Homo sapiens: one gene and its partners. The protein of the gene in region 3 binds, or shares a complex with, the protein of the main gene of each other region. Each region holds a gene or a part of one and is shown on either strand. Other genes may lie near its edges. The genes, in order: THAP3, RBL2, OGT and KRT7. A codon is read from its position in the direction of its gene.

Region 1 (7,717 bases), on a different chromosome or scaffold from region 3:
CGACCCCTGCTCGGGCTGGGACTCCGATACTCCCTCGAGTGGATCTTGTGCCACTGTGTCACCTGATCAGGTCAAAGAAATAAAAACTGAAGGCAAACGGACTATCGTCCGGCAGGGAAAGCAGGTGGTGTTCCGAGATGAGGACAGCACTGGCAATGATGAGGACATCATGGTGGACTCAGGTGAGTGGTCCCTGAAGGATGATGACCCTTGTTGGCTTGTGGTTAGAAGAGAGGTTATTTTATTAAGTGGTCATCTCTCTGGGGCACAGGGTCTGGTGCCTTCCGTAGAGTGTGACAGCCCCACTGTCCAAGGAGGAGAAAAGCTGCAGGAATGTGGATATCGAGATGTTTAGGAAGGGGTTGATTGCCACTAGAGACAGCTGAGATTCTAAGACCTTAGAACATAAAAAGGGTATAGTTCTAAGTAAGCATCCAGGTAAGCATCCAGGCCGGGCACGGTGGCTCCACCAGTAATCCCGGCACTTTGGGAGGCCAAGGCAGGTGGATTGCTTGAGCTCAGGAGTTGGAGACCAGCCTGGGCAGCATGGCAAAGCCCTGTCACTGCAAAAATACAAAAAAAGGCTGGGCGCAGTGGCTCATGCCTGTAATCCCAGCACTTTGGGAGGCCGAGGCAGGCAGATCACGAGGTCAGGAGTTCGAGACCAGCCTGACCAACATGGTGAAACCCCGACTCTACTAAAGATACAAAAAAAAAAAAGAAAAAATTAGCTGGGCGTGGTGGTGCGCGCCTGCAATTCCAGCTACTCAGGAGGCTGAGGTAGGAGAATTACTTAAACCCAGGAGGTGGAGGTTGCAGTGAGCCAAGATCGCGCCATTGCACTCCAGCCTGGGCGACAGCAAAACTCCGTCTCAAGAAAAAAAAAAAAAACAATAGTCGAGTGTGGTGGTGTGTGCCTGTAGTCCCAGCTATTTGGGAGGCTGAGGTGGGAGGATGGCTTGACTGCAGGAGTTTGAGGCTGCAGTGAGGTATGATTGCACCACTGCACTCCAGCCAGGGTGACAGAGTGAGACCCTGTCTTAGGGAAAAAAAAAAAAAAGTAAGCATCTCCTGGGTAATACCTGGTTCCCACACATTTTGGAGCCCCTCGTGCCTTTTCAGAGAGAAGTGTCAGCTTCGAGTGGCAGTTGGAAGTGTTCTCGTCAGTAGAGTTAATGGGTTTCATGGAAGCCCAGCTGATGGCGAGGAATGATGGGAATTTCTCTTCCCTCCTTGAGAGTATCTTTCCTTCCAGATGACGATTCCTGGGACCTCGTGACCTGCTTCTGCATGAAGCCATTTGCCGGCCGCCCCATGATCGAGTGTAATGAGTGCCACACCTGGATTCACCTGTCCTGTGCGAAAATCCGGAAATCCAATGTTCCAGAAGTGTTTGTCTGCCAAAAGTGCCGGGACTCCAAGTTTGACATCCGCCGTTCCAACCGCTCGCGGACGGGCTCCCGGAAGCTGTTCCTGGACTGACTGCTGGCTGGCGAGGAGGCTGCGAGCGTGGAATCGGAAGCGACCGCGGGCTTTTTTGCCCTTCTCTTAGTTGAGCACAGAACCCTCAGCTCTGGTGCGGGCAGATCCCTGCCATTTAGGTGCCTAAGCAAAAGGACAGGCTGTCCAAGGTAGAAACTGTACATAGCCGGTGACCGAATGCGACCTTTGCCAGCCAGAGCTGCTGCCAGAGCTGCGTTCCCTGCAGTGGAGGTGGACTGGACACCCACGTGCAGCGGGTTTGGCTCATTTGAAAATGAGGGTCCGTGGTAGCTGTGCGTTTTGCTATCATTGCTAAGAGATTCCCGCTGATTGGGCTCAGTGCCAGCTGTTATTCTGCTTCCACTGTGTTGGGGAGAGGTGTTCGGTTTCCCCAGCCTGTTAATGAACAGCCATACGTGTAAGCTTTTTCTTGAGTGTTAAGTCTTTTACCAAAAGTGTCTGTACAGCAGCCATCCAAGTTGCCCCTACTTAGTGGCTTGCCCTCTGCCTGCCTCAGCTGCTGCCTGACCGGCTGGGGGAGGCACTGGCGGGAGGCCTCGGGCTCCCCTGGAAGGGCGCTGGGCTGGCGGGTCAGCTGGTGGTTCTTAGGTTTCCTTCTGTTTGTTAAAAGGGACAATGTGGCCACTTCTCTGTGGAAAGGGAGTTGGTTGGGGGGTTGAGATGGCCCGTGTTCATAACTCAGTTTCCTGTTTTGCACGATGTAAAAACCCTGTCTTTTTGCACGATACAGCCAAAAGTATTGGCTGATTTCTTGCTGAGTGCCCTCTTAGTTGGTGTGTGAGGTCTTGGTGGGCTCAGGCCAGCTGTTTGCGAGTGTGGGAACTCATAGGTTCTGTCTTTGTCTCTTCCTTTCACCTCATTCTGGTAGCAGCATAAAGGTTAGGCAATCACTGGGACCCGCATGGTGTTCCTCCAAAGAATAGGGTAAAGGAGAGCTGGGAGGGAGCCCTCTCCGTTGGGTGACTCTTGTGTGCCCTTTAGACAGGCTGGCCTGCCGGTTCCACAGGGTACAGTTAGGACTTGAGTCTTTCTTTTTCTGTTTTGAGTTGGTGAGTGAGTGATAGGGTAACATGGGCCTTCAGGATGACCCCTTGGAACTGTGCCGAGTTCCTTAAATCTCAGCTGGGATCCTGGACCTGGGAGGCCCCTGTGAGGGCCAGCTCTGGAAAAACCTGGGAGTTGATGCCGGAGGCTGTGGAAGAACTCTGCTCGAGGGCAGGGTGCCCTGGAACACTGGTAGTTCTGGGGCTGGGAGGGAGAGGGGCTCCGGCTTTCTCTGAAATGAACACTGCTCTTCAGCAGTTCAAGTACTTGTTCTCAAAACATTTTCTAATTGATTGGTAGGTTTTCATAAGCATTGTTTCTTTAAGGCATGGAAAGGGAAGAATGCTCAAGCAAGTCATGTTTGTTTTCAGTGGGATGGGCCCGCGTTCTCACTGCTGGGGGCTTCCCCTTCATGTGGCACCTTTGTGCCAGGCCACCAGGCAGACTCTTCCCACCTTCTCCCACTGAAGCACCAAGGGGCTTGAACCGTAATTTGGCTAATCAGAGGCATTTTTTTTGTCCTAGTATCTTTCACACTTGTCCAACCGTCTTATTTTTTTAAAAGTTCTGTTGCTTGTATTAACACGAAACTAGAGAGAAATAGTTTCTGAAGCCAGTTTATTGTGAAGATCCCCAAGGGGGAGGTTCGGTAGAGAAAAATAGTAAGCTGGTTTAGAAACTGACGAGGGCAAACAGCCAGGACGCATTGGAGAGGAATTTGCCAAAGATCTACCCTGAGATAACGCCTGTCCAGTGTCTTCACCACGTGAATAACCAGCGCTCCAAAGTGTTTTTCTGCTTTGAAAAAAAAAAATTCCACAAGCTTTTAAAGGTGCATTTAAGAATCCATGTGACTTTAGAATGGAACTGCCGGCCCTGGCAACTGTCACGTGTGCTAGAAGGTTCGATGCCTCTGGAATGCATGTGATACTCATCTCCATTTTGTTTCCTTGATTGCATTTTTGTTCTTTTAGCAGATCTGTCCCTGTGGGTGGTGTCTAAGAAGTCGGACACCTTGGTTTTTGTGTTAGATTGAGCTGGGCAGCTGCAATCAGCTTCTTTATATGCAAATTAGGCACGACCCATCTGTGGTTCCTGGTTGGTGGCTAATGAAGTGAGGGGAGGGAGGGATGTCACCCCAAAAGTAGGCCCTCCCATTGGCTTTGGCCAGGCCAGACACTTCACATCGTTTACATGGTTCTGTGTAATTTTAAAGTTTATGTGTATAAAGCGAAGCTGTTTCTGTGAAACTGTATATTTTGTAAATAAATATATTGCTACTTTGAGGTTCATGATTCAAGGTTCAGGCGATTGCGTTCTGTGCTGAAGGACAATTGTGTTTCTTTTCTCCTTGCTACCTCCCCAAAGCATGATTACATCAAGTCTCTGGGAAGGCAGCGTCTCAGTGTGCACTTAGCAGGATGGAAAATGCCCACGGTGTTAAGGTACCTTGCTGGTGAATTCCTTAGAAACAAACCACAGGACGAGTAGATGTGAATGGTTTTTGCAGTTTCTTCATCAGATTGAGGATTAGCTCAAGCCCCAGTGAGTGGTTAGCCTACTTTTGATTTTTTTTTTGTTTTTGAGACTTGAGTTTCGTTCTTGTCACCTAGGCTGTGAAGTGCTGTGATGAGATTTTGGCTCATTGTAACTTCCACCTCCCGGGTTCAAGAGATTCTCCTGCTTCAGCCTTCCGAGTAGCTGGAATTACAGGTGCCCGCCACCATGTGCGGCTAATTTTTGTATTTTTAGTAGAGATGGGGTTTCACCATGTCGGTCAGGCTGGCCTTGAACTCCTGATCTCAGGTGATCCGCCTGCCTCGGCCTCCCAAAGTGCTGGGATTACAGGCGTGAGCCACTGCGCCTGGCCGATTTTTTTTTTTTTCTTCTTACAAGATGACGCCTTCCCTATAGGCTGCTTTGAGAAAGCTGCAGCCTCGGAGTTTCTGCAAGGCCTGAACTGGAATCTCCCTCCCCTTCAGTTGCCCTTTTTGCCTCTTCACGTTTGGGGGTTCCCTGTGACCAAACTTAAGGGCAGTGAGCTGTCTGGCCTCTGAACTGACACCACCAGTGGCCAACTAGTACCACCTCCAGTGACGTCAGAGGAGTCCAGACCTATTCACAATTCAAAGCCCTAAAAACACTGAGGGGTTGGCCGTTGGTTTCCAGTTGTCCAAGCCTGTGAGTGGCTATGCGTCCTGGTTGGGTGCTCAAAGCAAGGAGGTGAAAGGCGACCAGCATTGGCGAATGGGGTAAGACTTGCACAGGCCCAAGGCTAGGAGTTGGGGTTTCGGGCCTGAATTGGGGCCCGGAGCACCCCTTTACGTGGCGCCCCGGGTCCCGTCCGACCCTGGGGAGACGCGGGTGGCTGGGATGGCAGGATGAGCGCGCCCTGGAGGCGAGCCAGGCCCGTCACCACCTCCCAGCGGCCCCGCCCCTCCCCGCAGGTCCCTCCCCTCTCCGCAGGCCCCGCCGCCGCCGCCATCTTTGTTGGGGGCAGCCAGGCCTGGCTCGAGATGCCGAAGTCGTGCGCGGCCCGGCAGTGCTGCAACCGCTACAGCAGCCGCAGGAAGCAGCTCACCTTCCACCGGTAAGAGGCGGGGACCCGGGGGCGCGGGAGGCCCAGACCCGGGGCCCGCGGACCGACTCCGAGGCCTTGGCGCGCCGGGCGGGAGGCCCAAAGGCGTGCGGCCGCTGGGCCCGGGGACAGGCCGAGGTCCTGGGCCCAGAGGGGCTGGCGCCGCCGCGCCCGCCGCGGGGATGCGGGGAGTGGCGGACGGAGGGGCAGCGGCGCACCTGGCGGGGCCAGGGCCGGGACGTGCAGGGAGCGGAGCAGGTGTTTGCTGAACAGACTAGCGGGCCGCGGCCGGGGTTTGCTGTGTCCCTGGTCGCTGCAGCCCCCGCCGCGCGCGGTCCTGAAGGGAGCCCGGCACCTGGGCAGTGCAGTGGAGGAGTGGAACCCCCAGGGGCGTCCTGGCAGTGGGAAGGGACTCTGCAGGGTCGCGGGAGGACGCTGGAGACTTTGGAGTCTGCTCCAGCACTCGCCCGGCCCGGCCCGGCCCGGCCCAGGAGCAATCGTCATTAGTCACAGTTGCGCTTTCTCCAAGGTCCAGTCACGGCACCATTTCTCTACCCACTTTTGGGCACATTCCGAAGGGGGGCTTGTGCTCATCGTTCCCATTCCCTCTGCTCCCATTGTTCTGTTTTGTGATAAATGCTTTGCTTGAAGTATACGTAATGTACATGCAGAAAAATGCACGAATCATAAGTATACAGCCCAGCGAGTTTTCCCCAAGTGAACGTCACTGAACTGAAACGTTACCAGCTGGGCGCGGTGGCTCAAGCCTGTCATCCCAGCACTTTGGGAGGCCGAGGCGGGAGGATCGCTTGAGCCTGGGAGTTCGAGACCTGCCTGGGCAACAGAAGGAGACCCTACCTCTACAAATAATTTAAAAAAATTAGCCAGGCAAGGTGGTGTGCCCCTGTAGTCCCAGCTGCTCGGGAGACTGAAGTAGGAGGATCGCTTGAACCCAGCTTCGAGGCTGCAGTGAGCTATAATCTTGCCACTGCACTCCAGCCTGGGTGACAGAGCGATACCTCATCTCAAAATAAGAAATAAAACATCACTACCCCCGAGAAGAACCCCTACCTGGACCCCCTCCCAGGCCCTCCTCCTCTCTCCTGCCCAAAGGGAACCCTATCCTGCCCGCTATCAGAGTGGATTGCAGTTCATTCGCTTTCGTTGCCACATAATATTCCATTGAATGCAAGTGCCAGAATTTACTGATTTGTTCTACAATTGAAGGGCATTTGGGTGGCCCCATTTTTTGGATGACAAATACATGGTTCTGGAGGCTGGGCGTGGTGGCTCACGCCTGTAATCCCAGCACTTTGGGAGGCCGAGCTGGGTGGATCACCTGAGGTCAGGAGTTGGAGACCAGCCTGACCAACATGGTGAAACCCCGTCTCTACTTCTCTACTACAAATACAAAAATTACCCGGGCGTGGTAGCGCGCACCTGAAATCCCAGCTACTCAGGAGGCTAAGGCAGGAGAATCACTTGACCCTGGGAGGCAGAGCTTGCAGTGAACCGAGATCGCACCACTACACTCCATCTTGGGCAACAGAGCGAGACTCCGTCTCAAAAAACAAAACAAAACAAACATTGTTTTGGCCAGTTTTGGTGGGACTTGTGTTGCAGTGCATCTATCTGTTTTGCCTCTGTCAGGTATGTACTTGGGGATGGAGTTGCTGCGCCTTCTCTCTTGAAGTCGTTTCCTCCACTCCCACGAGAGCTCTGTCACATCACTAGTGAGCCTTGTGACACTGATCGATTGCATAGCATTTCACACAACTGACCCCTGAGCCTGGGTCACTTTTCCCGCATGGCGTCTGGTACACTTCTTGGCCACAGGTGTCTCTTCTCAGTCTCCTTTGCTGGATCCTCCTTATTTCCAGCACTAAGTGTTGGAGCCCTGGGGTGTGGGCCATGGCCCAGGGGTGGCTTCTAGCCACACTTGCTCCCCAGGGGCCCATCTCACCCAGGCTTATCGGTTCCGCAGGGTTGGCCGCCACACTGACATCTCCAGATGCGTGTGGCCGCCTGTCACCCCAGCACATGGAGAGCCTAAAAAGCACCTCAAATTTAACTCCTGACATAAAAAACAAACTTCTTTTTTTGGAGACAGACTCTCACTCTGTTGCCCAGGTGGAGTGCAGTGGCGCAGTCTCGGCTCACTGCAGCCTCTGCCTCCCTGGTTCAGGTGATTCTTGTGCCTCAGCCTCCCAAGTAGCTGGGATCACAGGAGTGCGCCACCACGCTGGGCTAATTTTTGCATCTTTAGTAGAGATGGGGTTTCACCATGTTGGCCAGGCTGGTCTTGAACTCCTGAGTTGAGGCAGTCTGTCTGCCTTGGCCTCCCAAAGTGCTGGGATTACAGGCGTGAGCCACCATGCTCAGCTGCTACAAAACAAACTTCTGATCCCCTTAACCTGCCGTCCTGTAACTTAATTTTATCTCCAACATGAAACTCCTTCCTTCTCAATTTTACCATCTACAGGCAAACCTTACTGCATGGCTTTCAAAATACATCCAAGTCTGCCCTCTCATTACCACTTCCTGCCAATGCCTGGTCCCACAGCAGCCAGGGTGGACCCAGGTTCCATCTCA
Region 2 (7,019 bases), on a different chromosome or scaffold from region 3:
TTCCTCGCTTTTATAGGGAGAGGAAAGTTGTATCACTTCTTGAGTAAAAAGAATTGTGACGATCTTTTACAAACAATGCCTTAAAAATTATTATTTTTGAATGATATCTGGTAGTGGATCCACAATAGTCTCATTTGGTTATACAAATAAATTTTATGTATTCATGTATGTGTTTTGATTAGGTATAAAATTAGTGGCTGAATATCCATTCAAGCTTAATTTTGTATTTCTATCACTTTTCTAGATTTTGAGCAAGATTAAAAATATAAACAATAGGCCAGGCGCAGGGGCTCACGCCTGTAATCCCAGCACTTTGGGAGGTCTAGGTGGGCGAGTCACGAGGTCAGGAGATCAAGACCATCCTGGCTAACACATTGAAACCCAGTCTCTACTAAAAATACAAAAAATTAGCTGAGCGTGGTGGTGGGCACCTGTAGTCCCAGCTACTCAGGAGGCTGAGGCAGGAGAATGGTGTGAACCTGGGAGGCAGAGCTTGGAGTGAGCCAAGATGGAGCCACTGTACTCCAGCCTGGGTGACACAGTGAGACTCCATCTCAAAAAAAATAAAAAATAAATAAAAATAAACAATAATATTGTTTGCATTACTATGGCTATATAGCAAATTGCCTTAAAACTTAGGGGCAGAAAGCAATTTGTTTTGGTCACAGGTTCTGTGAGTAAGGAATTCAGGCTGGGGACAGTGTGGATGTCATGTTTCTGCGTCAAAATGACTGGTACCTCACCTGGAAGACTTGAGCAACTAGGTACTGGCACAGCTGGAGCTCGTTGGGCATCTCTGTATGTTTGTTCCATGTGGTCTCACCAGCATGGTGATCCAGGGTAGCTAAATTCTTACATGTTGGTTCAGGACTCCGAAGGCACATGTCCTAAGAGAGAGAACCAAGTGGAATCTATACTGCCTTGTATAATCTTTTAGAATTACATAGTTTCACTTCTACCTCTGCAATTATTGATAGAGACAGTTAATCAGTGTGAGGGAACGCAGACCCTTGCCCAGGTCCAAGGTGAGGGAACCCTCTCTACCTCTCAGTGGAATAATGTTAATGTCACATTATAAGAAGAGCCTACGGGGCTGGGTACAGTGGCTCACACCTGTAATCCCAGCACTTTGGAAGGCCAAGGCGGATGGATCACTTGAGGCCAGGAGTTCAAGACCAGCCTGGGCAACATGACAAAACCCTGTCTCTACAAAAAATACAAAAATTAGCCAGGTATGGTGGCGCACTTCTGTAGTCCCAGCTACTTGGGAGGCTGAGGTAGGAGGAGTGCTTGAACCTGGGAGGTGGAGGTTGCAGTGAGCCAAGATTGCGCCACTGCACTCCAGCCTGGGTGACAGAGCAAGATTCCATCTCAAAAAAAAAAAAAAAAAAAAAAAAAAAAAGAGCGTATGAGATAGGGTCATCATTGAAACTAAGTTTCCCACAAAAATATAAACAACACTTTCAATTTAAACATACTTTTAAAAATATTGAAATATTTATATGTAGCTTTTTAACTAAAAATCAATTTTCTTTTCTTTTACAGGGAAATGATCTTCATTGGTTAGCATGTGCCTTATATGTGGCTTGCAGAAAATCTGTTCCAACTGTAAGCAAAGGGACAGTGGAAGGAAACTATGTATCTTTAACTAGAATCCTGAAATGTTCAGAGCAGAGGTAACTATGTTAGAGTTTGACAAGTAGAGTATGGCTAATGTAAGCTCATAAATCATAGTGATAGTAAGAATTATCTCTGTTTATCATTTTCTGAGCATTTGTACCTGTGGACTGGTGAAATTAGATGCTAAAACTAGCATCTAATGATTTTCCTTTCTTTATATCACAGTTAATATCCATTATATTTTACTTCTTTGGTGAAAATATTTAAATTTTAATGTTTTAGGCACTTGTATGGCAGAATTTATTTTTAAAGTTTAGGACATTGTGTAATATTGGGAGAAATGAAGGATATTGAGAAACTTTAGGAGATACTCCAAGTTGAAAAGGTAAATAAAATATTATTTGCTATTATACTTAGAAATATGTGCACAGGACTTGTGGTCTTAATATAAATGGAACATGTAAGTATTTCTCAGTTTCCTGTTTGGAGGATAAATGACATGATTATAATCCATTTTAGAAAGGGTCAAATATGTTTAAAAGAAGAGGCAGAAATTGCTTTATCTGTTGTGTAATTAAATTGATTACATTTATTTTTTGTGCCTTTTAGGTGAATTTTCTTACATGGCTTATTAAAGATAAGTGGAAAAATGATGTTTAGCATTTTGGGGGAAATTACCACTGTCAAAATTTATGGAGTTAATGGTTAAAAAATCACTTACTAAATAAAAAAATTAACTGGGTGTGGTTGTGCATACCTGCAGGCCTAGCTACTTGGGAGGCTGAGATGGGAGGATCACTTGAGCCCTGAATGATGGAGCAGCACTGCACTCCAGCCTGGGCCACAGAGCAAGACCTTGTCTCCAAAAAAAAAAAAAAAAAAAAAAAAGAAGGTTACTATTAAAATAATTAGCAGGCTGGGGGCGGTGGCTCACACCTGTAATCCCAGTAATCCCAGCACTTTTGGAGGCCAAGGTGTGTGGATCACTTGAGGTCAAGAATTGGAGATCAGCCTGGCCAATATGGTGAAACCCCGTCTCAACTAAAAATACAAAAATTAGCCGAGTGTGGTGACATGCGCCTGTAATCTTAGCTACTCAGGAAGCCGAGTCAGGAAAATCACTTGAGCCCAGGAGGCAGAGGTTGCAGTGAGCACTATTGCACTCCAGCCTGGGTGACAAGAGCGAGACTCCATCTCAAAACAAATAAATAAAATAAAATAATTCACAATGTCATGTTTTAGCTGACGTTGTGAATTTTAGTAATCTTTTTTTAACCTTTAACTCCATCCTGAGTTACATTGACCAAAGAATCAGTATCTAGAATTATATCAGGAACTACTAACAGGGTTAATAAAATGAATAAAGAACATGACTTCACAAAGGTTATAATTCACATAGCTAATAGATACAGGAAGAGATATTCACTGTCACTAATAAAGACTTTCAAAGTAGAAAGATAACATTTCATTCTGTTTTTTTTGAGATGGAGTCTTGCTGTTTCACCCAGGCCAGGGTGCAGGGGCGTGATCTCAGCTCATTGCAGCCTCTGCCTCCCAGGTTCAAACGATTCTCCCGCTGTGGCCTCCCAAGTAGCTGGGATTACAGATGCGCACCACCACACCTGGCTAATTTTTTGTATTTTTAGTAGAGACGGGTTTCACCATGTTGGCCAGGCTGGTTTCCAACTCCCGACCTCAGGTGATCCACCCGCCTTGGACTCCCAAAGTGCTGGCATTACAGGTGTGAGCCACCATGCCTGGCCAACATTTTATTCTTATCATTGGGAAAATTTGAAGTCTGGTATACCAAGTTTGGTCACTGTACAGGGAAACAGGAACTCTATTTTTTTTATTTTTCAGTTCTTTTTTTTTTTTTTTTTTTTTTTTGAGATGGAGTCTCACTCTGCTGCCCAGGCTGGAGTGCAGTAGCTCAATCTCTACTCACTGCAACCTCCACTTCCCAGGTTCAGGTGATTCTCATGCTTCAGCCTCCCGGAGTAGCTGGGATAAAGGCACATACCACTATACCTGACTAATTTTTGTATTTTTTGTGGAGACCAGGTTTCACCGTGTTGACCAGGCTAGTCTCGAACTCCTGACCTCAAGTGATCTACCTGCCTCGGTCTCCCAAAGTGCTGGGATTACAGGCATGAGCCACTGCGCTCAGGCAGGAACTCTATATTGCTGGTGTACATTGGTGAGAGTCAAAATTGACACAACTACTTTACTAGCAAATTTGGTGGTATCTAGTAATATTGAAGGTGCACATTCTCTTACTGTACTTCTTGGAGTAGTCCCCAAAGAAACTCCTGCACACATGTATAAGGATGTTTTCATTACAACATGTTTTGTTATCATGGAATATTAGAAACAACCTAAATTTCCATTGGTTGGGGAGTGAATGCAAAAAGTCATTGTATGTTCATATGAAAGAATGTTTTTAGCAATTAAAATGAATATATCTTACATATCAACATTAATGTCAGAAACATTATTGAGTGTGAAAAAGCAAGTTGCAGAATACCACTGAAGTATGATAGCATTTATATAAAATGTAAAAACACGTAATAAGATATTGCTTATTGTTTACACATACATGTGTATGTGTAGTAAGTGTGAAAACATAGGAAGGATTAAGACCAACTTTAGAATGGTTTTTATCTTTGGGGTAGAAGGGTAAGGATGGGATTAGGGAGGAGTATAAAATGGTAATTTTGACTGTTTCTTTTTCTTTTTCTTTTTCTTTTTTGAGACAGAGTCTCGCATTGTCGCCAGGCTGGAGTGCAGTGGCGTGATCTCGGCTCACTGCAACCTCCGCCTCCCAGGTTTAAGTGATTTTCCTGCCTCAGCCTCCTGAGTAGCTGGGATTACAGGTGCCCGCCACCACGCCCAGCTAATTTTTTGTATTTTTAGTAGAGATCGGGTTTTACCATGTTGGCCATGCTGGTTTCAAACTCCTGACCTTGTGAATCTCCCACCTCGGCCTCCCAAAGTGCTGGGATTACAGGTGTGAGCTACTGCGCCTAGCCTTGACTGCTTCTATAGTGTTGCTAGTTTAAAAAAAAATCTGAAGTGGCAGGAGGAGGTGGCTCACACCTGTAATCACAGTGTTCTAGGAAGCCAAAGTAGGAGGATCACTCAAGCCCAGGAGTCTGCAGTGAGCTGTGATCTTGCCACTGAACTCCAACATGGGTGATAGAACGAAACCCTATCTCTTACAAAAACAAAAACGACAAAATTTATTTAATATATTAACATTTAAAAAATCTGGCAGTGAACCAACGTGAATGTTGGTTAGGTTACTCTTGTTAATTTTGGTTTGTATTTTCAAATATTTCATAGTTAACAAATACTTTAGGTAACCTAAACAAAATGGATTAGGAGGATCAGAGGAATATACCAATCTGTAAGAAATTAAGCTAGTCAGAGACATGAGTTGTGATTTTATTTCACTGTCTAAAAGTAATATAATTTAATGCGATAATATTGATTTACTTTTGAATACTTACTTTTGTATACTTTAGCCTTATGTTAATTATGAAATATCTTGTTTGTCTTTAATACCAGCTTAATCGAATTTTTTAATAAGATGAAGAAGTGGGAAGACATGGCAAATCTACCCCCACATTTCAGAGAACGTACTGAGAGATTAGAAAGAAACTTCACTGTTTCTGCTGTAATTTTTAAGAAATATGAACCCATTTTTCAGGACATCTTTAAATACCCTCAAGAGGAGCAACCTCGTCAGCAGCGAGGAAGGAAACAGCGGTAGGTTTTCTTGTTGGTTCATCAGGAATACACGTTAGTCTGTGCTGCAGTGTTGATATTCTGCTAGGTTTTTTTTTTCTGGTTTTAAAAAAGAAATAAGATTTAAAAAATCTTTTTCCTCAGTCGTTTTCTTTTAATGATGCTTTTTTTGCTTTTCATTGTGGGTTAGCCATGAAGAGTGGCTTTTTTCATATTGCTAAATGTATACAGGTCTTTGTTTCTATAAACTTTCATTTGTCTTATTTTATTTTATTATTATTTTTTCCTCAGTGATCCTTGTTCTGAAACCTTCCTTTTTCATTTAAGCAACAAAAAATGCAGACTGTACAAGTCAGACTTAGGGATTTTCACCCTTTCGCCGCCTTGGAGATGTATCTGTATCTGTATCTGGATATATATATTTTTTATTGCGCAGGGGCCATGCTAATCAATGTATTGTTCCAATTTTAGTATATGTGCTGCCGAAGGGAGCACTGCCCTAGATATAGATCACTATATTAACCACTATATTTTCTACTAGTGATTATATAGACTATTTTATGTCAAACTGAGTAATAAATAATCCCCTTGAAATGACTTCTCTATGTATTTTGATGTTTATAATGAATTCAGAATAGAGAGACTGGATTGGGAAAAGACAGGAGAACTGAAACTATTATGAATTTGTGCTTTCTGATCACTTCTGCAAAGTCTATAAGCATGCTCTGACTCAGTGTTTTCTACCTTTCCTGATAGATAAAGGCAGTTATGGAATACACATTTTCCTTCTTTATCATTGAAAGTTTTTTCATAAAGTAGAAATGAAAATTCTAACAATTAGAAAAATGTTGACAAGAAAAGTAAAGGGAAAGGAGTTAAAATTATTTGGCTAGAATAAATAATGTTTGCTTCTCTTTAAATATAAAAGTTTTCCCAGACTGTGAAGGATGTTTACATTAAGTGTAACCTTTTAAAAATAAAATGGGGGAATGACAAACCAGGAGGAAAAAAAATTTAAAAAAACTAGAACTATTTACATTTTAATATAGATGGCACCACTGATACAGAAGCATCTGGTCTAGCTCACTTACAGTTTTGGGGAATTGACTATTTAAAATGAAGCATTCTGAGCCAGGCGGGTTGGCTCACGCCTGTAATCCCAGCACTTTAGGAGGCTGAGGCAGGCGAATCACCTGAGTTCAGGAGTTCAAGACCAGCCTGGCCAACGTGGCAAAACCCCGTCTCTACTAAAAATACAAAAATTAGCTGTGCGTGGTGGTGCATGCCTATAATCCCAGCTACTCGGGAGGCTGAGTCAGTAGAATCCCTTGAACCGAGAGGCAGAAGTTGTGAGCCAAGATCGTACCATTGCATTCGAGCCTGGGCGACAAGAATGAAACTCCATCTCATAAATAAATAAGTAAACAAATAAAAGGAGGTATTCTGGCTGAGTGCCTGTAATCCCAGCACTTTGGGAGGCCAAGGCGGGTGGATCACTCTAGGTCGGGAGTTCGAGACCAGCCTGGCCAACGTGGCGAAACCCCGTCTCTACTAAAAATAAAAAAATTAGCGGGGTGTGGTGGTGGGTGCCTGTAATCCCAGCTACTTGGGAGGGAGAGGTGGAAGAATCACTTGAACCTCAGAGTTGGAGG
Region 3 (7,019 bases):
TCTAGAGGTCAGAGATCTTTGCCTTACACTCTCTTGATAGAGCTACTTATTTAAGCATGCAATATATTATTTATTGAGTACATACTACATTACTGTGATTAAGACATGGGCTCAGTAATTCAATTCAGTAGAGGATACAAACACAGGGAATTATCATCTGTTGTGCTGTATGTAATGATATATTCCAAACATTACAGAGGTATAAAAGACAGGTACCAATGAAGTAGGGATGGAGACGTTAGCGGTAAGTACGGAAATGGATTCCTGGAAGAGCTGTCTGAACTGAACGTTTGAGTAGGATTTAGCTAGGGAAAGGATGGGTTTACAGAAGCAAGAAACTGTATGGAATCTACACATAGTTCATCATGTAAGAGAGTAAAGCCACAGGCAGGGAATAACAAGATATTAACACAGCAGTTTCTCAGTAAGTAATAATCTGCTGGCTGAATCCAGGAGACTTTTAAAATCAGACACACCTATATAAGATGCACGTTTCCACTAAACTCATTTCCTCATCCATAAAAATGGTGATAATGATACTTGCCTCCTAGAGTTATCATGAGGTTAAGGGAAATAAATGCATACTTGGCGGGACATATAATGGTGTATTATTATCTTCTCACCTGAGTAGTTGCCAGTCCATTGCTAATACTGAATCCATTAATTGTTATTTGAATCTGTCCTCGGTTAATCATTTCAATAACTGCTTCTGCAATAGTATTCATAGGAATAACAGGCATATTAAGAGCTGTGTTACTGCTATCTGCATTGTCTCCTCCATCAGGACACTTCATCTGAAAAAAAAATGCATCATTAGGGAAAAGATCGTGAATGCAGTTAACTTTATTTCAATGACAATACTGACTAGGTTCTGACCTTGACAATTTTCACATCTGGTAGACTATCAAGAAATGCTTTGAGGTCGATGCCATTCAGAACTATCCGATTGTCATAAATGTGCCCATTGGACTTAAAATCGATGACTGCTTTTTTCTAATGGAAAAAATAGTTTCAGACATGTCTTTTAGGATTTACATAGACAATAGCAAGGAAATAAAAAGCTACAGTTCTTTGAAATTCGTCCATAGCACTGTTTCATACCTACCTTCAGGTGAGGGAACATATTAGCATGATCACCAATAAAAAAAGTGTGGGGCATATAAGCCAATTTCTCGGAATACTGCTCAGCAACTTCAGCTGGCGAAGTTTCCTGATCAGTGATAATATAATCCATGAAAAGCGCACCACTCGTCCCAGGGTATCCCAGCCACATTGCCTTAAAAAAATCAGATCAAAAACTGATTAAGAACTTTTATCAGTACACTTACCTCTAAATTCATCAAGTCACATACATTAAATATGTACAACTTTTTGTATGTCAACTGTACCTCAATAAAGTGGTTTTTAAAAAAAGAACCTAAAGGTGCCAAAATTAAATAAGTAAATAAACAAGGAGGTCTAACTCTTTTTTAGAGACAGGATCTCACTCTGTTCCCTAGGCTGGAATACAGTGGTGCAATCGTAGATCACTACAGCCTCAAACTCCTGGGCTCAAGCAATCCTTCTGCCTCAGCCTCCAGAGTAGCCAGGATTACAGGCACTTGCCACACGCACAGCAAGGCTGACTTCTTTAGCCGAAAGCAATGAAGCAGTTCTATAAGAGAGACTCTTACTCTGTCACCTGGGCTGGAGTGCAGTGGCATAGTGATAGTTCACTGCAGCCTCAAACTCCTAAGCTTAAGCAATCCTTCCACCTTAGCCTCCCAAATAGCTGGGATCACAGAGGCACACCACCACTCTGGCTAATTTTTTAATTTTTTGTAGAGATAGGGTGTTTTGCTTTGTTGCCCAGGCAGGACTCAAACTCCTGGTTTCAAGAGATCCTCCTGCCTAAGCATCCCAAAGTGCTGGGATTACAGGCGTGAGCCACCATACCCGGCCTGTATTTCAGACTAACTTTCAAAATGCTAAAATGTTCTTCAAATTTGCAAGACAGAGTAACTGTTCATAGCCAACCATGAATTGCATGTCTCTATATACATGTACCTATAAGCACTGTGCTCTACACTCTTTTTGTCCTGTGCATTTCAACAACTTAAAAAAATTAAAAGTATGTCTGCCCTACAGTTTCAAATATCAGTTAACCAGAGGGAGGAAAAGCAGCACCTCACTGTATTCTTAGCCAAATACATGTTATAAGTGATGACTGTTAATTTGTTTACCTGAATAGGAGCTGGCCTGAGAGCAAAAAGCTCATTTCGAGCGCCCTTAGTATAGCCATTCATATTTACAAGGATATGAATTCCATCCTGATGGATGCGATCAGCTGCTTTTCCATTGCATGGAATCTACAGAATACAAAATAAGAACTCACTATGTATAATCTCAGATCAATTAGTTTTAATGACATTTAGTTTTAATGGCATTTAGTTTTAATGGCATTTAACATAATTCAGATTCCCAGATGGAAAAGAGGTAAGAACACAAATTAACTACATTAATTCGGGCACAAATATGGTTGACTGTCATTAAAATGGGCCCAAAGCATTAAAGAAACAGAACACAAAGGAAGGAGAGTTCACTTCTGGATTGAATGTATGAATAACAACATATCACAGAGAAATTGGTATTTGAAATTTGTAATCTTTTTTTTTTTTTTGGTAGGGATGGGGTCTCACTATGTTGCCCATGATGGTCTCAAGCAATCCTTCCACCTCAGCCTCCCAAAGGATTATACACGTGAGCCACAGCACCCAGCCTAGAATTGGTATTTGAAAATAGGTCTTCAAAGACGAATAGGAGTTTGAAGGAGTTTAACAGAATACAATCTCAGTAGAGAACAGTATGAATGAAGAACTAGAGTAAAGTGTGAGGGAGTTTAGAAAATGGTGAGTAGGCCGGGCATGGTGGCTCACATCTGTAATCCCAGCCCTTTGGGAGGCCGAGGCAGGTGGATCACCTGAGGTCAGGAGTTCGAGACCAGCCTGGCCAATGTGGTGAGACCCCGTCTCTACTAAAAATACAAAAATTAGCCGGGTGTGGTGGCAGGCGCCTGTAATCCCAGCTACTCGGGAGGCTGAGGCAAGAGAATCGCTTGAACCTGGGAGGCAAAGATTGCAGTGAGCCGAGATCGTGCCACTGCATTCCACCCTGGGCGACAAGAGCAAAACTCCATCTCAAAAAAAAAAAGGGTGAGTAATTCACTTCTATTTAGTATAGGGTATACAAGATGTTGAATGGTGAGTTAAAGTATTGACAAAGTTGTGGCAAACAGAGAAAGGTTACAAAAGCTATGCTGAAGAGTTTAGACTGCAATCAATCAGCAGTGAGTCCCTAAAGGTCTCAGAGGTAGAAAGAGGTATGCTTCTTGGTCACAAAGAGTCCAACTGTGTATCAAAAATGGCCAGGTATACTTTTGAAGCAACAGCTATACTGCAAAATTTGTTAGTACATACTATTTATTAAATGAGAAGTCTCAAAACCTTTCTGCTAGGACTTCAGTGATTCATATATATATACACATACACATGTATATTTATACATATATGCATACATATCATACCTGCATGTGTATGTACATACATACATGTGTGTACACACACATATAAAGAGTATATTATCTCTATTAGTCAAAGTGGCTAATAGAGTCTACAAAGAAAACACTGTAGCCTACATACTCAGCAAATTAATTCCCCCATAGGTTTCAATCTTAATTTATCATAAAACTTACTCTCCTAGAGGATACAACAATAGAACAAGTACAGAAATAAAGATAACCAAAGGCAAAGGCCCATGGAAACTGATGAACCATAGTTCATCTATTTTTTCTTTTTTTTTTTTTTTTTTTGAGACAGAGTCTTGCTCTTGCCAGGCTGGAGTGCAGTGGTGCGATCTCAGCTTACTGCAACCTCCGCCTCCCGGGTTCAAGCGATTCCCCTGCCTCAGCCTCCCAAGTAGCGGGGATTACAGGAATGCACCACCACACCCAGCTAATTTTTTGTATTTTAGTAGAGACGGGGTTTCACCATGTTAGTCAAGATGGTCTCATCTCCTGACCTCATGATCTGCCCGCCTCGACCTCCCAAAGTGCTGGGATTACAGGCATGAGTCACCACACCCGGCCCTATTTTCTTTAAAAGACCTATTTATTCTTCTCCCAAGTCACCATTTTGTCAATATTTATTAAGTATCTTCTGTCACAAGTGCTGGCTCAATCTCCAGAAAAGTTGTATGTCCAAGCACAAGCATAACACATTTCAGTTTCATTTGCAACCTCGGAAAAAGCCATGCTGATTAACACAAATGATCAAGGAAATAAGATCAACACAATTGCCTATATGTGGTACTACAGCATTTAATACTTATCATCAAAAATAAACTATATGCTAATAGTTTTATTTAAACTTGCTCAAAATAAAAAGTTAAAGTATGAGAGTTTCATCTACCTGAGAAAGATCAATGAAATGATTGGCTTCTGCCATCACCTTCACTCGGAAGTTTGTGCCATCGTCTGGGCTCAGGGCATAACAGAACACCTGAAAGGCAGCACATGGCATATTTAATAACATTGGCTCAAATCTTTCTGGCTCAAATCTTTCCAAAAGACACTAGGTTTCCATGCCTCATGGTGACAAGCCAACATTGTGGGTTTTTTCTTTTTTAAACAAATAGTGATTCTAGAGAAACACTAGTCTTACCTCAAATTTATCAGGATTGTGCATGCCTGGAATAGACTGCATAAGGTGAGAAGTAGGATGATTCCCAAAGTCGGAACTCACATATCCTACACGCAGCCGACCATCACTGAGCTTCAAGTCTTTTGGATGTTCATATGGTGGTTTATGAAGAACATTAATCTATCAACAGAATCCAATGCTTGTTAGTAAAATCTACATAAATTTTCATCTAGGAAAACTGACGAAAAACACACCAAACCTATACCTCACACCTGTTGAAAAAGGTCTGCCCAGAGCATTTAGTTAATATTGCCAGAGAGATGCAACCTCAGCACTTTATGTAATATGCTTCATACTTTGACCTGCTCCTGAGATCTATAAAGCATGAGCAAATCCCAGCGCTCTGGGAAGCCAAGGAGGTGGATCGCTTGAGGTCAGGAGTTCGAGACCAGCCTGGCCAACACAGTGAAATCCAATCTCTACTAAAAAAAAAAAAAAAAAAAAAATTAGCTGGGCGTGGTGGCACATGCTTGTAGTCCCAGCTACCTGGGAGGCTGAGGTGGGAGAATCGCCCAAACCTGGGAGGTGGAGGTTGCAGTAAGCCAAGGTTGTGCCACTGCACTCCAGCCTGGGCAACAGAGCAAGACCCTGTCTCAAAAAAAAAAAAAAAAAAAAAAAAAAGTACGAGCAAATCTAACACTTGTAGGTATGAAGCAGTATGGACAGAGCATGGTTTCCTCCCGCATTTTAGAAAATTCTATAGGGAAACATTTTCTAAAAACAAAATTATGGCTGGGGGCAGTGGCTCATGCCTGTAATCCCAGCACTTTGGGAGGCTGAGGCAGGTGGATCACCTGAGGTCAGGATTTCGAGACCAGCCTAGCATGGCAAAGCCCTATCTCTACTAAAAATACAAAAATTAGCCAGGCGTGGTGGCACACGCCTGTAATCCTAGCTCCTCGGGAAGCTAAGGCACGAGCATCACTTTAACCTGGGAGACAGAGGTTGCAATGAGCTGAGATGGCACCACTGCACTGCAGTCTGGATGACAGAGACACTATGTCTCAAAAAAAAAAAAAAAGTACACCTAGCACTCCAATCTATTATCCAACCTTTGATCCAATCCTTGATCAAGTACTGCTCTAATTCTCAAAGGTGAATACAAAATACCAAGCACTCCATTAAACATGATGGCTGGCCAGGCGCGGTGGCTCACACCCGTAATCCCAGCACTTTGGCCGGGCGAGGTGGGCAGATCACTTGAGCCCAGAGGTTCAAGACCAGCTTGGGCAACATAGCAAAACCCCATCTCTACAAAAAACACAAAATTAGGTGTGGTGGCATGCGCCTGTAGTCCCAGCTACTCAGGAGGCTGAGGTGGGAGGATCACCTAAGCTCGGGGAGGTCAAGGCTGCAGTAAGCCATGATCACACCGCTGCACTCCAGCCTGGGCGACAGAGCAAGACCCCGTCTCAAAAAAAAAAGAAAAAAAAGATAAAAGAAAAAAAAATTATGGCTTTCAACTTAAAGAAAAGTACCATCAGTCTATCATTAGTGTTTAAGTGAAGGAGTTAAGGATTCCGTCTTATGAAGTGCAGGGGGTTATACTCAGGACACAATGGAAGGGGTTCTGAAGTGGCCCACAAAAGTTTTATTTCTCGACTTGGGTGGTGTTCACTTTATAATCGTTCATTAAGCCACAGATTTGATTTTTACAGTTTTCTGTATTTGTGTTTTAGTTTACAACAAAAAGATTAAAACAAAAGAATCACACCTTATCTAAGCACAGGTTGCCGTGCCTCTCAGCAATAGCCTTCCTGAAGCCATGAGAAAGAGGATATAGCATACTATGATGAGGATGCACAGAAGGCAACCTATTCTTCTCTAACTGGTCAGCCACAATACTGACCAACTTCTTCATTCGCTCATCATAGTCTGTCCAATCACAGACAATCTAGAGAAAGCAAAAACAAGTTATTATCCAGAAAGTCCTATCCCAGGATTTAATATTTGATATGTCTTTGGCCTAAAGTAATGTCAGATAGCCTATTAAAAATACTATTTCCAGTCAGGCTTGGATTCTTATGGCATACAACAATTAAAAAGCTATTACAACACTGAGAGCCAATTACTGGCCTGTTATTCTTTACCTGCAGGCAATGAGCCAAGTTACAATAAGCATCAGGAAAATCAGGCTTAAGTTTCAGAGCCGTGCGGTAAGAAGCTATGGCTTCTGGAATATTCCCTGAATCCTGGAAAATAAATAAAGCAGGATGGTAAAAAATTTCCAAAAGTTAAATTTTAGGTGTTAAACTGCACATATTATAATAAACAGTAGTACCT
Region 4 (7,639 bases), on a different chromosome or scaffold from region 3:
AATAAAGATGGCTATCTGTGTACTTACAAGTTCTTATTTGTTAGGGAAGGGAGATGTTCTGGCATGCACTATAGGGAATTTTTAATCCTCATCTTTAGAAAACCGGACTCTGTGATGGGATTTAGAAGACACCAGGTTGAAAGCCACCAATGGAGCAGCATGGTGAGAAGGTCTCTGGCCTAGAAATTAAGGTGCCTCAGTTTAGTTGTGTCTCTGCCATTTTTGTGAGCCATGTGTCTTTGCGTAACTCATTTAATCCCTCTGAGACTAATTTTCCCACTCCAGGAAAACTGTGTTGCTACACATAGTCAGCACTCTTAAAATCTCTTGAAATGTCTGTTGAATAAATAATGAACAAACAAATGAGTAAAGTGACTTGTCTAAGGTCGCCCTCAGTGTGAGCTGTGCCTGAGCCCACAGGTGTCCGGATGCAGCCTGATACTCCATCCAGGTTAGCACACCTCCCCCACTCACTCACCGGTCTCAGCACTCTGCACACCTCATGGAGACTCTGCTCCAGGTTCTTCACAGAGCACAGCACCAAGGTGCAGACCAGCATGTCCACAGAGCCATCGGCCACCTGGTGCGTGTTCTCCCTGGCAGCTACCACAAAGCGCTCAAACTGCAGGTGTTGGTTCTCTGCAATGCTTTTGATCAAAAACTTCTCAAAGTTGGGGTTGGGGTCAATACAGGTCACCCTGCACCCAGGTGGCTAGTACTTGAAGTTGGCCCCCATGCCACAGCCCACCTCCAGCAGGGAGAGCTTCTTGGAGGGGCCCACAAACTCCTGCAGGTTGCCAAAGAGCTCCTGCTTCTTGCTTGCCATCTGTTCTTTGTACATCACAGTGAACCTCACCAAGAAGTAGGGGAACCATTTTTGCACATCCAGTTCTACAAGCCCATAAAGTTCAGCAGGTACATGGGAAATGCTAGGATGTCAATGGCCAGCAACGAGGAGGCCCAGGAGACACTGCTGACCAAAGGCAGAGAGAAGTGCCCAGTGGCAAAGGGGATACCGCTCAGATGGGGATTGCATTGGTGGTCACACCCGACCCCAAGGATGTGGCTTTCTCCAGTAATGCTTTGCAGGCTAGAGCTCGAGGAGAGGAGTCTGAGGTTTAGGCTGAATAGGGCTGGAGATTTATCCACGTGGGGACTGAAGAGTCAGGGGTCAGAGGGTGAGAGTAATGGTCAGGGAGCCTGAGCTGGAAAGAAAGGTGAAAGGAGGGTGGTGGGTGGGGAGAAAACGGAACAGCCAAGTTCAGGACTGGGGGTGCTGGTGTAGCTGAGGAATCCACCAATGACAGTGAGAGTTATTATCAATGGTCCTGCAGTTTAGGATCTAGAATGTGACCTCAGGTGTAGGCAAGAGAAAAAGGATGCAGTGAAAGAATTGAGGAGCTCAAGGAACTCAAAGGGTAAGATGCTGGGTGGGTCATTTGCACTGAGAATGAGGGAGCCCGGGGTGGAGAGGAAGCAGGACCCAGGTGCCAGAGTCCACAGTGAGCATGAAGGGAGTCAGGTCAGTAGGTGGCTGTGGGGCCAGTAGGGATCAGCCTCAGGGGAGAGAGGCAGGAGTGGTGCAGCTGGATCACAGGAGCCCACAGGATTTTTAGAATCACAGTGATCTGTGCAATCAATATATAAAGGTTAAAAACTCAATCAGTATATAAAGGATTTTCTTTTCAACCAATAGCATTCCAGTGAATGGTCAATTCACTGGATTAAATGAATTGGTCAATTCCTTTAATCACTTCCCTATTGACAGGCATTTAGGATGTTTCTATTTTTTCACAAATATACCACATTCCAATTCGAATTCCAAGATAATGAAAAAATTAATATTTTTTTTCTTTATGAGTCAGAGGACGTGTTTTTAGGGGATAGACAATGAGTAATAGTTCTCTAAGTGCAGCAAGGAGCCAAACAGAATGCCTCCTCTCTGGGAAAGGAGCAGCAGGGGCCACTGGGGCAGAGGTGTCTAGGGCAGGTTTAGCAGAGCCAGGCAATGTGGAGGACCTGGGGCTGCTTTGAGTTCATAGCTCAGTTCTAGAGCATGAGGTGGGACAGCTAGGAGGGTGGTGGGAAGACAGTGGGGGTGTGCTTGGCTGTGTGTGTGTGACAGAGTGCTACGGAGACAGGAGCCTGCATTTGGGGCAGGCAGATGACCAATGGGGAAAGACTGTGGGAATAACTCGCCTCATGATTCTGCCCAGGATTTCCTAAGGTGGTCTTGGTGAGGCCAACAAAGTCCGGGTGGGGTGGAGACAGAGGCTGGATGGATGGGTGAGCTGTGAACTCTTGTGGGCAGGAATCTTATCTGCAGCCTCTCAGGTTGGCAGCGCTTTGGGAAGCCCTCCAGAGGATGTTTGCGTGTGCCACCTGGCACAGAGTGGGCTCTTAGTGCTGGCCTGTGAATGGAGAGGCAGGAGGAGACTGGCCAGGGCTGGAACGGCCTGGAATGCTTCAGAGAGGGGAGGAGAGGCCAAGGGGTGAATGTCAGGCAGGCCCTGGAATGCAGAAATGTTGCTCAAAGTGGCCCCCACCCACAACCCCAGATGTGAGCCTGAAAAGCCCAGAGACCTTTTCTCCTTCCCATTGTCCTCCCCAGTCCTCTCTAGGTATGGAATCTGGAGATTTCATCTTGGGTGAAAAATCCATGGCCCAGGGAGGGGCAGTGACATGTCCAGGGCCTCAAGGCAACAGCAGTGCCCTGACAAAGATTTCCCAGCCAGGCTTTAGGGGAGAAGTGGATGCAGGAACTCCTGGTCTAGGTGGGCACAGCCTCCAGAGCGCAGATCCTGTAGGGGGCTGGAGATGGGGACGGATGAGAGGGCCAGAGGCAGAACTTGTTAGTGGAGGTATGGGAGAGCAGGCGTTGGTGTGAGAGGCAGTGGTAAAAACAGAGTTGAAGATGAGCCCTGAGGGGTGAGGAAGTTGGAGTGTGTGTGTGTGTAAATTAAACAATTGGTCTTTTTTGCCTGCTTGGGCGTTGGGGAAGGAGGGCAGTGAGATTCCTATGAATGCAAATATCACAGGACCAGGTAATCCGTATGCTCTTCAAGCTACAACCAGGCACAATTCCAGGTCGAATCTCTCTCGGTCTTATGCACACATACATGCTCCACAGCCGATACCACAGCAGGTCTCCTTGGGCACCCCTCCGCCTCTGGCCTGAGCTGACCCAACACCAATGGCTAGGGTCAGGAGGGGAGGCAGGGAGGGAGGCTGGTGAGCCTTCACTAAGATCACTGAGAAGGAGTGACAGTCTTTAGCCTCACTGGAAGTCCTTGTGCTTTAACTGAAATGGCCAAGCAGGAAGGACATTCCGTCCCCACCCTTGTCTCCCCCAAGGGCTTAGGTCTGAGGTAACGAACCTGGCCAGCTTATTGGGAGGGGCTAGAGGTGGGCTAAGGGCAGACGGAAGCCAGGCCTGAGAACAGGGTGTGGCAAGCATGGCTGGCCCTACCGGGAAGTGAGGCCAACACTCAGGCTTTGTCCGGTATTCGGTTCCAGCACTAGGATTACCCCTCTTGACTGGGTTTGAAACTGCTGGGAATTGTTTGGTGGTGGCTTCACGGGAGAAAGATGATGAAAGCTGAGGGCCTTTAAACAGGAAAATGGTGGAGGGAGCGGGAGGAGAGTTGAGTGCTAACAGAAGCACACGCACTCAGGCAGGCATGAAAATGTGTGCCATTGTGTAGCCACAGCTGCCCCCTCGCCCAGGATGCACGCACAGACCCCCATCTGTGTAAGCAGGCTCAGACATGCGGGTGCATATGCCTGGGGGTGTGAGCACAGCAGAGCCCAGAGGCCTGCAGGCGTGTGCACACATCCACAAAGTGTCCACACATCCACAAAGTGTCACAAATACACACAAGTGTCCCCTTCCTGTACAGGGACGCATAAAATAAATGGGCAGGAATATGAGTGGAGGGTCCGGGAGGTGAGGGTCCAGGGTAAGCATTCCCAAGGTCCCTGGGATTCCGATGCCTACTGGAGTGGGGAGGGGAGGAGCCAGAGGTGCGGTCGGTCGTGTGTCTCTCTCAGCCTAGTTTCTATGGGAAATGAAGTAGGAAGGAACGCAGCCAGGGAAACTAGCTGGGCCAGGAGGGGTCAGACCCCTGAACAAGTGAGCTGATCTCTCAAGGAGGAGCTGGATCGGTGTGAGGGAGAGCGGTAAGGAATGCCTTTCTGGCTTCAGCAGCCTGGAGGATGGGGACGTCTGGGCGTTGACTCCTGGGTTGGAACTTTTCAGCCCACCCCTTCCCCCAGTCTCTTGCCACTGGGTCTCTCTGCTTGGGCCTCAGGGATCTCTAGGTTCTTCACTCCCTCTCCAAGCATCCTCCTCCGGGAAGCCTTCCCTCACTGAGTCCGTTTCCAATGGGCTGGAACTGCGGTCCCCCGCTGTTCTCTGCGGCCGTCTAGGGATGGCGCTCCTGCCTACTCCGGACCATCCCTGCTTGGACTGAAAGCCTGGGCTTCGGCGGGGCGGGCGGGCAGAGGGCGGAGGGCGGCCCCAGGAGGGGCCTGGCAGCAGAGAAAGGTGGCCCGCGGCAGCCCCGCCCCTACCTGTGGAAGCCCAGCCGCCCGCTCCCGCGGATAAAAGGCGCGGAGTGTCCCCGAGGTCAGCGAGTGCGCGCTCCTCCTCGCCCGCCGCTAGGTCCATCCCGGCCCAGCCACCATGTCCATCCACTTCAGCTCCCCGGTATTCACCTCGCGCTCAGCCGCCTTCTCGGGCCGCGGCGCCCAGGTGCGCCTGAGCTCCGCTCGCCCCGGCGGCCTTGGCAGCAGCAGCCTCTACGGCCTCGGCGCCTCACGGCCGCGCGTGGCCGTGCGCTCTGCCTATGGGGGCCCGGTGGGCGCCGGCATCCGCGAGGTCACCATTAACCAGAGCCTGCTGGCCCCGCTGCGGCTGGACGCCGACCCCTCCCTCCAGCGGGTGCGCCAGGAGGAGAGCGAGCAGATCAAGACCCTCAACAACAAGTTTGCCTCCTTCATCGACAAGGTGAGCGGGACTGGACCTCGCCTCTCCTCGAGCCGCGCTCCAGACCACACCAGCCGCCCTAACTAGCCCTGCCTGCGCGCGGGCCAGGCGCTGGGGAGCACTGCCGCCCTTCTGTCTTTCCGCCAGTGTTGGGGACACGATCTGGGGGTCCTTCCTCCTTCGCATGAACCCCGTGGCTATTTTATCCCCTCGGTTTCCAAGCCCTCCCTTCCAGCAAGCTGCCCAGCTGCCCCTCCCTTTCCTCCCGGAGTGCGGGCCTGAGTCCTGTAGGGCTGCCCTCGCTGGCTGCCTGTTGGTCACCTGGACCAGTTTTGCCTCGGACTAGGAGTTCCAGAGGCCTAGGCCAGGAGTTCTCTCTCTGGGACCCTTTCCCTGAGAGAGGACCGTGTGGAGTCAGGAATGGAGTTGGATGGCACGCCCTTCCCAGAGGGGGAGACCCAGGCTCTCTCAGATGCTGATGCGGATGCAGATGCTGGAGATTAGAGCGGCAGTCGGTGGGGCGGGGGAGGGGGGGGGGCTCCCGCCCCTCCCCTCCCCCACCTGCCTGGTCCTCCAGCCTCCCTTAGGTGGCAGGAGGAGAGGTTATACCTGCCCTTGAAGACAGCCCAGTTGGGGGCAGGGAGTGGCAGAGAGGGCCCTCAAAAAGGGGTCCATTTTGGAGATATTTTTCCTGGCTGTTGGCCTCCGCCACACATGGGGCCGCTGGAGGGGGCGAGGGCAGACTTGACTGGTGGGTTTGGGAGGAGTGCTGCCAAAGCCAGGAACTCAGGGCTGGCCCTGCTGGGCTGTTCTGGCCAGGGCCCCCTTCCTCAGCTTAGACGAAGTGTACTCCCACACCCGCCTCCCTCACGTTCTCCTTTCCTTCGCCATTCACCCAGACCGGTCTTTTAGATTTCATAGGGGCCTCCCCAAGCTGCTCCAGGCCCAGGTTCCCCCATGTGTTGAGCTGCACCGTCTTACTCTCTGTGGTCCCCAGGGCCTGGGGCCCTGAGCTGCTGGTTTTGCAGAGGCCTCTATTGCCTCCCACCTCCAGTCATACCGGCTACTCCTTAAGGGCCTTTGTGGGCTCCAGGCTGGGGTCATTTTACCATGGATTGACTGTCCTGAGGCCTTGCTGGAGAAAGGGGAAGGAGAGAAAGGATATTGAGGAAGGAAGAGAAGAGGTCCCAGACAGAAGGGAGGGCTGGGCCTGGTCATCCTCATGATCCATTGACAGGAAGAGGTGGCTGTTCAGATAGGGAGGTGGAGAACACCACCTGTAATGTGATGGGGAGTGAAGTGGAGAGGAGGCCCTGGAGCACATTCGTCGAGAGTCAACCACGGGGCACTTCCGTGCACCAGGCAGACCTGCTTCCTGGATCACTCTGTAGGACACTTGATTTGGAGTCCAAAGGGAGAGGGCTGGAAGCCCCAGGCAGGGAAACAGCCAGGGGGAGCATGGCTCTGCTAAGTGGCTAAAGATGATGTTCCTCAATCCCGCTGTGGGTGGCACGCTCTGGCTCCTCTTGAGTTTCCTCCTTCTCGCCCGTTCTAGGTGCGGTTTCTGGAGCAGCAGAACAAGCTGCTGGAGACCAAGTGGACGCTGCTGCAGGAGCAGAAGTCGGCCAAGAGCAGCCGCCTCCCAGACATCTTTGAGGCCCAGATTGCTGGCCTTCGGGGTCAGCTTGAGGCACTGCAGGTGGATGGGGGCCGCCTGGAGGCGGAGCTGCGGAGCATGCAGGATGTGGTGGAGGACTTCAAGAATAAGTAATGCCCCCTGTGCCACATGCGAAGACCCCTGCCCCGGGCCAATGTGACCCTCATGAGCTGACCCTGTGCAAGTCCCCCTGCTTCAGGAATCAGCATGCAGCTGCTCAGTCCAATAACTCCCTGAGGGGCCAGTCTTGACCAACACATTTCCTGCCTTTCCTCTCTCCTCTTTGTCCCTGGGGGCTGTTTCCAAATCATTCTGGTCTTTTCCCCTGACTCAGTCCCAGTGAAATGTCTCAGCCCAGCCCTGACCTGCACTGTCTCCTTTGGGTGTCTGACCAAGGCCCCGAGAGAGAGTAGGGCAGAAAGTGTCTTCTGACAGGGGTGCTTCAGAACTGGTATGACCTTCACAGATTATTCTAGAGCAACTCTCTTTTGTTCAGGTGAGGAATTAGAGACCAGAGAAGTTTAGGGACTTGGTTGAGCTCACACTGCAAAGGTCACTGGGAGAGCTGGGACTTGAATTTTAGGTCCCTGACTCCTAGGAGAGGACACAGAGCCAACTTGGGAAGCAAAGAAGCAGAGAGGGAAAATGGTCATTGTGAGCCATGCGAGGGCCGCAGAGGCTGAGGGTGGGTCTGGTCATGGCAGGAGCCAGAAGGAGGCTCAGGAAGGCTGGGACTGGGGCTTTTGAGGACAGGTCTTTTTGCACTCTTTTCTCATTGAATAGAAACAAAAGCCTGAAGCTCAGGCTGGGCCCCACCCTGGCACACCTGAGGGGCACTGGGGCAGTGAGTGAGTTCTGTCCCCTGCCTGTGGCTGTGTGACTAAGCAGGAGTCACACATTGGCTCTGACTGGAGGAGAGCAAACAAGGTCTCTGTGGAGTGCCCCCCCCCAACACTCCCACTTCCCTAGGGCAAAAGTCAACAGGATTAGTCCCA

The links.
Region 1: OGT (region 3) and THAP3 share a complex: the UniProt entries of both Homo sapiens proteins name them as parts of the THAP1/THAP3-HCFC1-OGT complex.
Region 2: the proteins of OGT (region 3) and RBL2 are in contact, whole or in part, in a crystal structure (PDB 4XI9), measured with the Homo sapiens proteins. Residues at the interface, in NP_858058.1 of Homo sapiens: His506 (codon at 6,537), His508 (codon at 6,531), His509 (codon at 6,528), Asn567 (codon at 4,760), His568 (codon at 4,757), Pro569 (codon at 4,754), Tyr642 (codon at 2,276), Thr643 (codon at 2,273), Lys644 (codon at 2,270), Gln849, Phe878, Val905, Ala906; in NP_001310537.1 of Homo sapiens: Thr417, Pro418, Val419, Ser420, Thr421, Ala422.
Region 4: the proteins of OGT (region 3) and KRT7 are in contact, whole or in part, in a crystal structure (PDB 4XIF), measured with the Homo sapiens proteins. Residues at the interface, in NP_858058.1 of Homo sapiens: His506 (codon at 6,537), His508 (codon at 6,531), His509 (codon at 6,528), Asn567 (codon at 4,760), His568 (codon at 4,757), Pro569 (codon at 4,754), Tyr642 (codon at 2,276), Thr643 (codon at 2,273), Lys644 (codon at 2,270), Gln849, Phe878, Val905, Ala906, Pro907; in NP_005547.3 of Homo sapiens: Val9 (codon at 4,709), Phe10 (codon at 4,712), Thr11 (codon at 4,715), Ser12 (codon at 4,718), Arg13 (codon at 4,721), Ser14 (codon at 4,724), Ala15 (codon at 4,727).

Annotation. Positions count from the first base shown.
Region 1 is NC_000001.11:6,620,156-6,627,872, forward strand, and holds the start of THAP3 (THAP domain-containing protein 3), read left to right. Parts: upstream 1-4,712; 5' UTR 4,713-4,799; intron 4,800-4,994; 5' UTR 4,995-5,063; coding exon 5,064-5,137; intron 5,138-7,717. Other genes in the region: PHF13 (PHD finger protein 13), read left to right, coding at 1-182, 1,256-1,482. UniProt on the Homo sapiens protein: Component of a THAP1/THAP3-HCFC1-OGT complex that is required for the regulation of the transcriptional activity of RRM1.
Region 2 is NC_000016.10:53,437,471-53,444,489, forward strand, and holds part of RBL2 (retinoblastoma-like protein 2), read left to right. Parts: intron 1-1,545; coding exon 1,546-1,676; intron 1,677-5,187; coding exon 5,188-5,388; intron 5,389-7,019. UniProt on the Homo sapiens protein: Key regulator of entry into cell division. Directly involved in heterochromatin formation by maintaining overall chromatin structure and, in particular, that of constitutive heterochromatin by stabilizing histone methylation.
Region 3 is NC_000023.11:71,557,104-71,564,122, reverse strand, and holds part of OGT (UDP-N-acetylglucosamine--peptide N-acetylglucosaminyltransferase 110 kDa subunit), read right to left. Parts: coding exon 7,018-7,019; intron 6,929-7,017; coding exon 6,827-6,928; intron 6,631-6,826; coding exon 6,451-6,630; intron 4,857-6,450; coding exon 4,698-4,856; intron 4,536-4,697; coding exon 4,446-4,535; intron 2,349-4,445; coding exon 2,223-2,348; intron 1,277-2,222; coding exon 1,106-1,276; intron 994-1,105; coding exon 877-993; intron 795-876; coding exon 624-794; intron 1-623. UniProt on the Homo sapiens protein: Catalyzes the transfer of a single N-acetylglucosamine from UDP-GlcNAc to a serine or threonine residue in cytoplasmic and nuclear proteins resulting in their modification with a beta-linked N-acetylglucosamine (O-GlcNAc).
Region 4 is NC_000012.12:52,228,613-52,236,251, forward strand, and holds the start of KRT7 (keratin, type II cytoskeletal 7), read left to right. Parts: upstream 1-4,630; 5' UTR 4,631-4,684; coding exon 4,685-5,008; intron 5,009-6,542; coding exon 6,543-6,754; intron 6,755-7,639.